Linked DNA regions of Homo sapiens: regions 1 and 2 are each linked to region 3. The links come from fine-mapping of genetic effects on gene expression. A gene starts in region 3. Each other region holds a variant in brackets. All regions are shown on one strand. Distances are between the middles of the regions.

The links. PIP is the estimated chance that this variant, and not a neighbour inherited with it, causes the effect.
Region 1: its variant is the best candidate, but not a certain one, in a credible set for the expression of RAD21 in subcutaneous fat (FUSION, PIP 0.51).
Region 2: its variant is the best candidate, but not a certain one, in a credible set for the expression of RAD21 in fibroblasts (GTEx, PIP 0.52).

The regions. Positions count from the first base shown.
Region 1 is chr8:116,900,228-116,902,995 of GRCh38, reverse strand. No RefSeq gene overlaps it. Among named protein-coding and RNA genes, the nearest start is that of MIR3610, 27 kb to the right of the region's middle. RefSeq lists enhancers at 990-1,069, 1,120-1,209. The variant G/T (reference allele first, on the strand shown) is at 1,135.
Region 2 is chr8:116,929,472-116,932,239 of GRCh38, reverse strand. No RefSeq gene overlaps it. Among named protein-coding and RNA genes, the nearest start is that of AARD, 7.4 kb to the left of the region's middle. The variant G/A (reference allele first, on the strand shown) is at 1,432.
Region 3 is chr8:116,873,654-116,876,421 of GRCh38, reverse strand. RAD21 (RAD21 cohesin complex component) reads left to right here and starts at 1,646. Exons shown (of 14, transcript NM_006265.3): 1 at 1,646-1,811. RAD21-AS1 (RAD21 antisense RNA 1) reads right to left here and starts at 1,998. Exons shown (of 2, transcript NR_033886.1): 1 at 1,437-1,998; 2 at 1-1,001. It overlaps MIR3610 (microRNA 3610), which reads left to right and starts at 1,622; the gene lies at 1,622-1,694. RefSeq lists an enhancer at 1,649-1,698 and silencers at 1,809-2,128, 2,289-2,338.

The DNA of each region.
Region 1 (2,768 bases), 27 kb before region 3:
TACCAATAAATTTTGACCACTTTTCCAAGCAGCCATGCCATCAATGGAACCACTGTTCCAGGAGCTGAGACAATATCTTGGATTGACTTTTACTTATACTTCCCCACCCTCATTTGAATCAAGTCCATTAAAATGATTCTAACACTTTCATGCCTTCACTGGCTGAGTCCTATAAATGAAATAATATATACATACCAGTTAACAGAGTAACTGACACATAGTAAGTACTCGAGAAAAAAAAATAGTTGCTTGCTCTCAACACCAAAATGATTTTAATTCCTAACTGAATAGCTCTGCTTATGCTGTTCACCACATCCGGAATCCCTCATTCATTTTTTTCTTCCACCCACTGAAAACTAGTCCATTCATCAAGAATCAACTTTAATTCTACTTCCTCCTCTACTTCCTCTACTTCATACTCTTTTCTGCATTCTTTGAAAAAGAACATGGTTTTTAGTACTATAGGTTTTGTTATCTAGTAGCACAGAAAAGAGCTACTGTATAGTAAGCAATTAGAAAATAAGCCATGAAGCACTTTAAGAACAGACTCAGTTCTAAATCCTCTCTTTTATTTCCAAAATATTGATGGTTTCTGTGAGACCTCAGTTCTTGTCTCCTTAGTTTAAAAGAATTTAAATAAGAGCACCTGGCAAAGAAGGTGCAGCATACAGTGATTTATTGCAAAAGAAAAAGAATATTTTGAAAGGTAGGTACAGAATAGACAGGACACCCTGAGAGAGAGAGGATTCAGGGTGGGCTGCCCATAAGGATGAGCCAGCAAAGACTGGCACTAGGGAGACTCCCTTTATGGGAGTTTTACATAATAATTCATAAGAAGGTGGGAAGAGGCGTTACTAGTAGGTATGTTCTGGGTGGTCCTCTGGGTGCACATGCACAGTAGCTGCACATGCTTGTTCATGCATCGTGTGTCTCATTAGCATCTGAAATCTCCACCCAGGAGTGTATTTTTCACTATTGAAATGAGCAAAGCGCCAATTTGAGGACTGGTAAAATCCAAGTGCACATGCTCTCTAGAAGGAAAAGTCCCCACCGCAGATAGCTTTGCTTGAATGAGCTCAATTATACTGCGAACGCTGAGGCCTGTGTTGGTTGTATGGCCACCACGATCACTGC[G/T]TCCTGGCAACATGGTCACTTCCTTGACTACCTATCCTGCCTCAAATGCACATAACCCATTGATAGACCCATAGCAATGCAATAAACACCTGTCGACTAACTTTCAGATTATGATCTGATTATAAAAATAAGAGTTACAGTCTCTGTCCTCGTGCATCTTACAATCTAGCAAAGAAAATATATATTAAACTAATAATTATTACAAACAGTTGTTCTCTATGTTTCTGTGCAGTGAGATGTCTCCTTCACATTTCAAGATTAGATCAATTTTTTTCTTTTTTCTTTCTTTCTTGCTTTCTTTCGTTCTTTCATTCTTTCTTTTTTCAGGGTCTCTACCTCTATACAGCATGCAGAGCTGTTGCCAAGTCTAGCCTCAAACTACTGGGCTCAAGCAATGCTGAGTAGCTGGAACTACAGACATGCACCACCACACCCAGCTAATTTTTAAAATTGTTTCACTCTTCTGACTCCAACTTAGTGGTTCTCAGCCCTGAATAATTTTGCCCCCAGGAGATATTTAGCAATGTCTAGAGACATTTTTGGTTATTACATCAGGGCAGGGCAGGGGTGGAGGGCTGAGGGGAGATGTTACTGGCATCTAGCACGTAAATACCAGGATTACTGCTAATAAACATCCTAGGCGGAAGATAGCATCCCACAACAGAAAATTGTCCACCCCTAATGACAATGCAAAGGTTAAGAAATCCTTTTTTAAGACTGCTCTCTTAGACACGTCTTTGGCATAGTTTTCTCCTCAACCCACCACCATGTATTCCTTCTAATCCCTAGGCTAGTATATGCTTATAATTACAAAGTAATAATTTTTGCAATTTTGTGGGGTTTTTATTGAGATAAAATATACATATAAAATTTACCATTCTTACCATTTTTAAGTGTACAATTAAGTGATAATGGCTCCATTTATATTCTTTTTTTCCCTTCAAACCCTTCTCCCTCCCACTCTTCCTGGCCTTTGGTAACCAACAATCTTCTATCTTCATGAGATCCACTCTTTTAGTTCTCACATATGAGTGAGAACATGTGATATTTGTCCTTCTGTGCTTGGCTTATTTCACTTAACATAATAGCCTCTAGTTCCAACCATGTTGCAAATGGCAGGATTTCATTGTTTGTTATGGCTGAATAATTATGTGTATATTCTACATTTTCTTTATTCATTCATCCATCCATTGGCACTTAGGTTGATTCCATATTTTGGCTATTGTGAATAGTGCTGCAATTAATGTGGGAATGCAGATATCTCTTTGATATATTGATCTCCTTTTTCTTGTATATATACTCAGTATTAGAATTGCTGGTAGTTCTGTTTTTAGTTTTTGCGGAAGCTCCATACTGTTGTCTATATTGGCTGTACTAGTTTACATTCCCACCAAGAGTGTACAAGGGTTCCCCTTTCTCCACATCTTTACCAGCATTTGTTATTGCCTTTTTGATACAAACCATTTTAACTGGAATGAGATGATATTTCATTGTGATTTTGATTTGCATTTCTCTGATGATTAGTGATGATGTATTAATTCATTTTCACACTGCTGATAAAGACACACCCGAAACTGGAAACAAAAAGAGGTTTAATTAGACTTACAGTTCCACATGACTGGGGAGGCCTCAGA
Region 2 (2,768 bases), 56 kb before region 3:
CCCATCTCTACTAAAAATACAAAAAAATTAGCCAGGCATGGTGGTGGGCGCCTGTAGTCCCAGCTACTCGGGAGGCTGAGGCAGGAGAATGGCGTAAAGCTGGTAGGCAGAGCCTGCAGTGAGCCGAGATCACGCCACTGCAGTCCAGCCTGGGCGACAGAACCAGACTCCGTCTCAAAAAAAAAAAAAAAAAAAAAAAATGCTATGCAGGCCGGGCGTGGTGGCTCATGCCTGTAATCCCAGCACTTTGGGGGACCAAGGCAGGTGGATCACCTGAGGTCAGGAGTTCCAGACCTGCCTGACCAACATGGTGAAACCCCGCCTCTACTAAAAATACAAAATTAGCCAGGTGTGGTGGTGCATGTCTGTAATCCCAGCTACTTGGGAGGCTGAGGACGGAGAATCGCTTGAACCTGGCACGTGGAGGTTGCAGTGAGCTGAGATCATGGCATTGCACTTCAACTCAGGCAACAAGAGTGAAACTCCATCAAAAAAAAAGAGGGAATGCTATGCAGTCGTCTAAACATATCAGGCAGTGAATTAAAATACAATCTGAAAGTTCAGATTCATTTGTTTTCACTTTCTATTGATTTTCATTTCTCTTTGGGCTTTAGTTTTAGGTATTACATACATAGGTAAAATATAAATATTTATGCCATTCATTAACCTGCATTTTTTTTCTTGTGTCTTGACTGGGTCCCAAATTTACATCTTTTAAATAGGTATGATCCAGAAACCTGGCAGCTATGTGCTGCAAGACTGCCTTTCTGTTGAATCACTCCTCTTTGGCATAGACACCAATGTGAACAATAGAAGAGATTCACCTGACTTGGAAATCTCAGCCAAAATGCTGTGGGCTTGGTAGAAAATATACCTAAATGCATCCCTTGTGAATTATTGGTAAATGCAGGAAGCCATTTGAAACCTTCAGTTACATAATACCAATCACATAATGGTTCCATTGTTTCACCAAAACAACAGACTCTCAAATATTTATATGAGTTGATTTTTTAGGAAATACCAACTATATCTGCACCATATATCTGCAAATATATCTGTACAACAACATTTTCAAAATGTTCCTTTACCATTTATCAAAAAGGGTTGAGGAACCCCAAAAGATAAGATTCTCTCCTTAAAACTCTGAATAGAAATGGAAACATACCTCCTATCTTTTTGATTGAACTCTTCATAGAATCCATCTGATTGAGAAGTGAAATCAAATTATACAGATCCTAAACAAGATTTTAACCATAAAGTGTTATCTCTTCTATCAACATAACATTAAAATTAAATTGAAATTAAATAAAATTAACATTAAATGTTAAAAATGTAACATTAAGTTTCTAGTAAGAAAAAACAAGGTGATATTTAACCACAACTTACCCACTAATGCTCAAATATCAACAAAACTAAGTGGGGTTATTGGGA[G/A]CACATAGGCTTTCTCCACTGGATTGAAAAAGACTATTACTTCTGTCAGGAGACCACTTCTACCTGACCTGTATCAAGTTGATCAAAAAAGAATCAGAATTTCTAGAAGGATTTTATTACTCATTATTTTATCTCCTTTCTATTGAATAGAAAAATGAAGGTCATTGCTTCTTGCATCTTATTTACACACCAATATTACTTTTTATGAGATCCTTCTATAACTCTATAAAGAAGAATTAACAGTCATAACAACATTAACAACCTCCAGTAGACACAGAATAGAAAAACATTTGAAAAATTATGATGCATAAAAGAGAGGAAAAGAGCCAGATATTTTAAATGATCATGAAGATGAGAAGAAACAGTTGGTACTTCAACTTAATGGTTTGTTGTTTTAGGGAAAACACTAGGGTTATCATGTGGAGACTTAGTTTCTGTGTAATATTGAAACAGCCTAACATCTAAAATCATGTGCACCAATTCACACTGCTTTTGATGTACCTAGAATTAAGGAACATTCATTCATTCAATATTCATTCATTCAAGAAGAATTTTGGGAAGCCAGGTGCAGTGGCTGCACCTGTAGTCCCAGCTACTCAGGAGGCTGAGACAGGAGAATTGCTTGAGCTCAGGAGTTTGAGGCAGTAGTGCACAATGATCACACCTGTGAATAGCCACTGCATTCCAACCTGGACAACCTAGTAAGACCCCATCTTTTTAAAAAAAAAAGTATTTTGGAGTACCTATCATCTGCCAGGCACTATGCTAAATACTGGTATGAACACTGTTTTTATTACTGTTGCCTTTTTTACATTAATTTGATTGTCCTTTCTTAGTTTATTTCATTTCACCCTTTCAAATTCACATTCAGTGAAAAACAAATGAGTTTCCCAGTCTTGAAAAGTACTAATATTGAAAATTAGCATACATGACTGAAACCATTCCATTAATAAGACAATAGCAATACTATCTCTCTTGCTTTAAATCAATTTAATGATTAGATGCTAAAATTTTCACAGGGACGTAGCTTGTTGGTTGAGTGATGACTCTCTTTGACTACAGGAATACTCACATTTCTTAGCACAGGTTCAGTGCTTAAGCGTGAACTACAAGATGAAGAGAGTACCTGCAGTGAATTGTACTTGTTAGTTACTTCAGTTTTAGTTTAGTGTAAAACAATATAGACACCTGTTTTTCAAAAAACTTTTTTTAATTACAGAAAAATCCTAGATGAAAATAACAAATTGTAGGGGCACAGGGATCCCGTTCACCTTCTGAAGGTTCCCTGAAAATAAAGTGACAAAAGACCGATTAATAGGAGAAAAGCATACAAATTT
Region 3 (2,768 bases):
ATTGCCTGTATTTTGGATAAAAGCCATTTCAACTGGGATGAGATTATACCTCATCCTAGTTTTGATATGCATTTCTCTGATGATTAGTGATGTTAAGCATTTTTTCATATCCCTGTTGGCCATTTGTATGTCTTTTTTGAGAAATAACCATTCAGGTCTTTTGCTCAATTTTAATTGGATTATTTTCCTATTATATTGTTTGAGCTCCTTATATATTATGGCTATTAATTCTGTGATAGATGAGTAGTTTGCAAGTATTTTCCCCCACTTGATGGGTTGTCTCTTCACTTTGTTGTTTGCTTTGCAGAAGGTTCTTAGCTTGGCATGATCCCATTTGTCCATTTTTGCTTTGCTTGCCTATGCTTTTAAGGTCTTACTAAGAAATATTTGGTTCTGGAGCATTTCCCTAACGTTTTCTTCTAGTAGTTTCAATAGTTTCAAATCTTAGATTCCAGTCTTCAAGCCATTTTGTTTTGATTTTTTTAATATGGCAAAAGATAGTGATCTGTTTCATTCTTCTACATATAGTTATCTAGTTTTTCCAGAACAATTTTTGGAAGAGACCATCCTTTTCCCAACGTATGTTCTTGGCAGCTTTGTCAGAAATTAGTTGACTGTATATGTATTGATTTATTTATAGGTCCTCTATTCTGTTCCGTTAGTCTATGTGTCTGTTTTTATGCCAGCACCATGCTGTTTTGTTTACTATCACTTTGTAGTATAATTTGAAGTCAGGTAATGTGATGCCTCCAGCTTTATTCTTTTGCTCAGGATTGCTTTGGCTATTCTTGGTCTTATTGTGGTTCCATATAAATTTTAGGATTTTTTTCCTCTTTCTGTGAAGAATGTCATTGATATTTTGATAGGGATTACATTGAATCTGTAGATTGCTCTGGGTAGTATGGAAATTTTAACAATATTGATTCTTCCAATCCATGAACATGGAATATATTTCCATTTTTGTGTGTCCTCTTCAATTTCTTTCATCACTGGAAAGATCTCTACAATAAAAACAAAAGTAAATTTCTTCGTGGTACAAGTAAGTCTTTTAAGATAAGAAATTTTAAGATTCCTCCCAAGCAATACTGAAAATTTCCAAAAGGCAGTTATTATCTCTGTTATATTAATCATTATATCCAGAGCCCAACGTGTAGCAAACAGAAGACCCTCTATAATATAGGTTGACTGAATAAATGAACCTCTATATTTTATGGAATTAGTTTGAGGTTTTTATGTTACTTTCATCCCTATAGAGCCATAAAATGAATTTTTTGGTGGGGGCACACAAAATTGCACCACGACAGCTTTTTTCTTTAAAACAAGCACAAGAATAAAGCTAAACGCAAATATTCACCGCACTGGAAAGCACTGCGCGTGCGCTATCTTACGCTATTGGCTAACACCGCAACTCTCAAAGACCCTCGCAAGAGAATCACCTTTGCGCTTGCTCAGTTGTGGACTCCACAAACAGAGGGCGGGTTCCAAAGAAAAGGAAATAGTCATTGCGCCTGCGCCGCTCCTTCTGGGGGGAGGGGGGGGCTTGGGCTGGCTGCGCAGGCGCACAGGTACCATTTTGACCGTAAACATCCTGCCGATTTGAACCGAGGATTTGGGCGGCAGGAAGAGCCGCGGCGTAACGGCAGCCATCTTGTTTGTTTGAGTGAATCGGAAAGGAGGCGCCGGCTGTGGCGGCGGCGGGAGCTGCTCGGAAGCTACACCTCGCAAGGGCTCCCCCCTTTCCCCACCCCCTCCCCCGACCCTTTTCCCCTCCCCGGGCCACCCAGCCCGCCCAACTCCCAGCGGAGAGCAAGGTAAGAGACTCGGCCGACCCCTTCTTTTCCTCCAGCTCCCTCCCCCCACCCTTTCCCCGCCGCTCTGCCGTCGGGGAGCCGGACTCCTGGGGGCGGGAGGGCGAGGGAGAAGGCAGCCCTCGCCGCGCCCACGCGTGCTGCCACCCTCCCGGCGCCCAAGCGGCGGCGCCACCCGCCCAGCCCCCTTCGCCCCGGGCCCGCCCTCGGCCCGGACCCATGCAGCTTGGGCCCGCATCATCGCTTGTTCGGTAACAAATGATTCTGATCCATTCTGAGATCTACAAAGGCTGTTACCCTGCAGGTCCATCTCACGTCCCCCAGGAGGCCGGGGAAACCCTGGGCTGCGGAGGGAGGGGAGGAGGTTTGAACGAGCCCGCTCTGGGGACCGGGCCGCCTACTCCGCGGGTAAAAATGGCTGTCTGGGAGGAGGCGGTGGCGGGCCCGGCGCCCGCGGTGCCAGCCCCGGGAGCAGCAACCTTCCGCCGAACTCGGGTGCGGGGCTCAAGAAAGTGCGGAGCTGGTGGGGCTGGGCGGGGTGGGGCGGGGGGTCGGCGGGTGCCCCTCGGCCAGTGACTGCTGCTGCCCTCCCGTTTTAAAAAGATAATTTTTACGTTGGGAATGCTGAATATTTCACAGACGCGTGGAAAAAGAGACGGAGGGAAGTTGCTTCTTTTTCCAAGGATATTTGCATAATTGGTTTTCCCCTGAACTTTTCTGATCATTCTTTAAAGTGATTAAGGATATCGGGTGTTGTAGAGACGCTCTGGGGGAGGTGTGTGTTTCTGATAAATGCTTGATGCCCTTTTCGTCGCTGAAAAAGGCTTTTTGCGAATGATCCGCTTTGATAGTGTGGGGTGACACTGTCGGGTTGTGCTGCCAGACTTAGCGGCCTTCTTCAAATTTGTAAGAGGGAAACCCTGGGGGATTTACTTGGTCACTCTGATTTGTTAGTGTCTT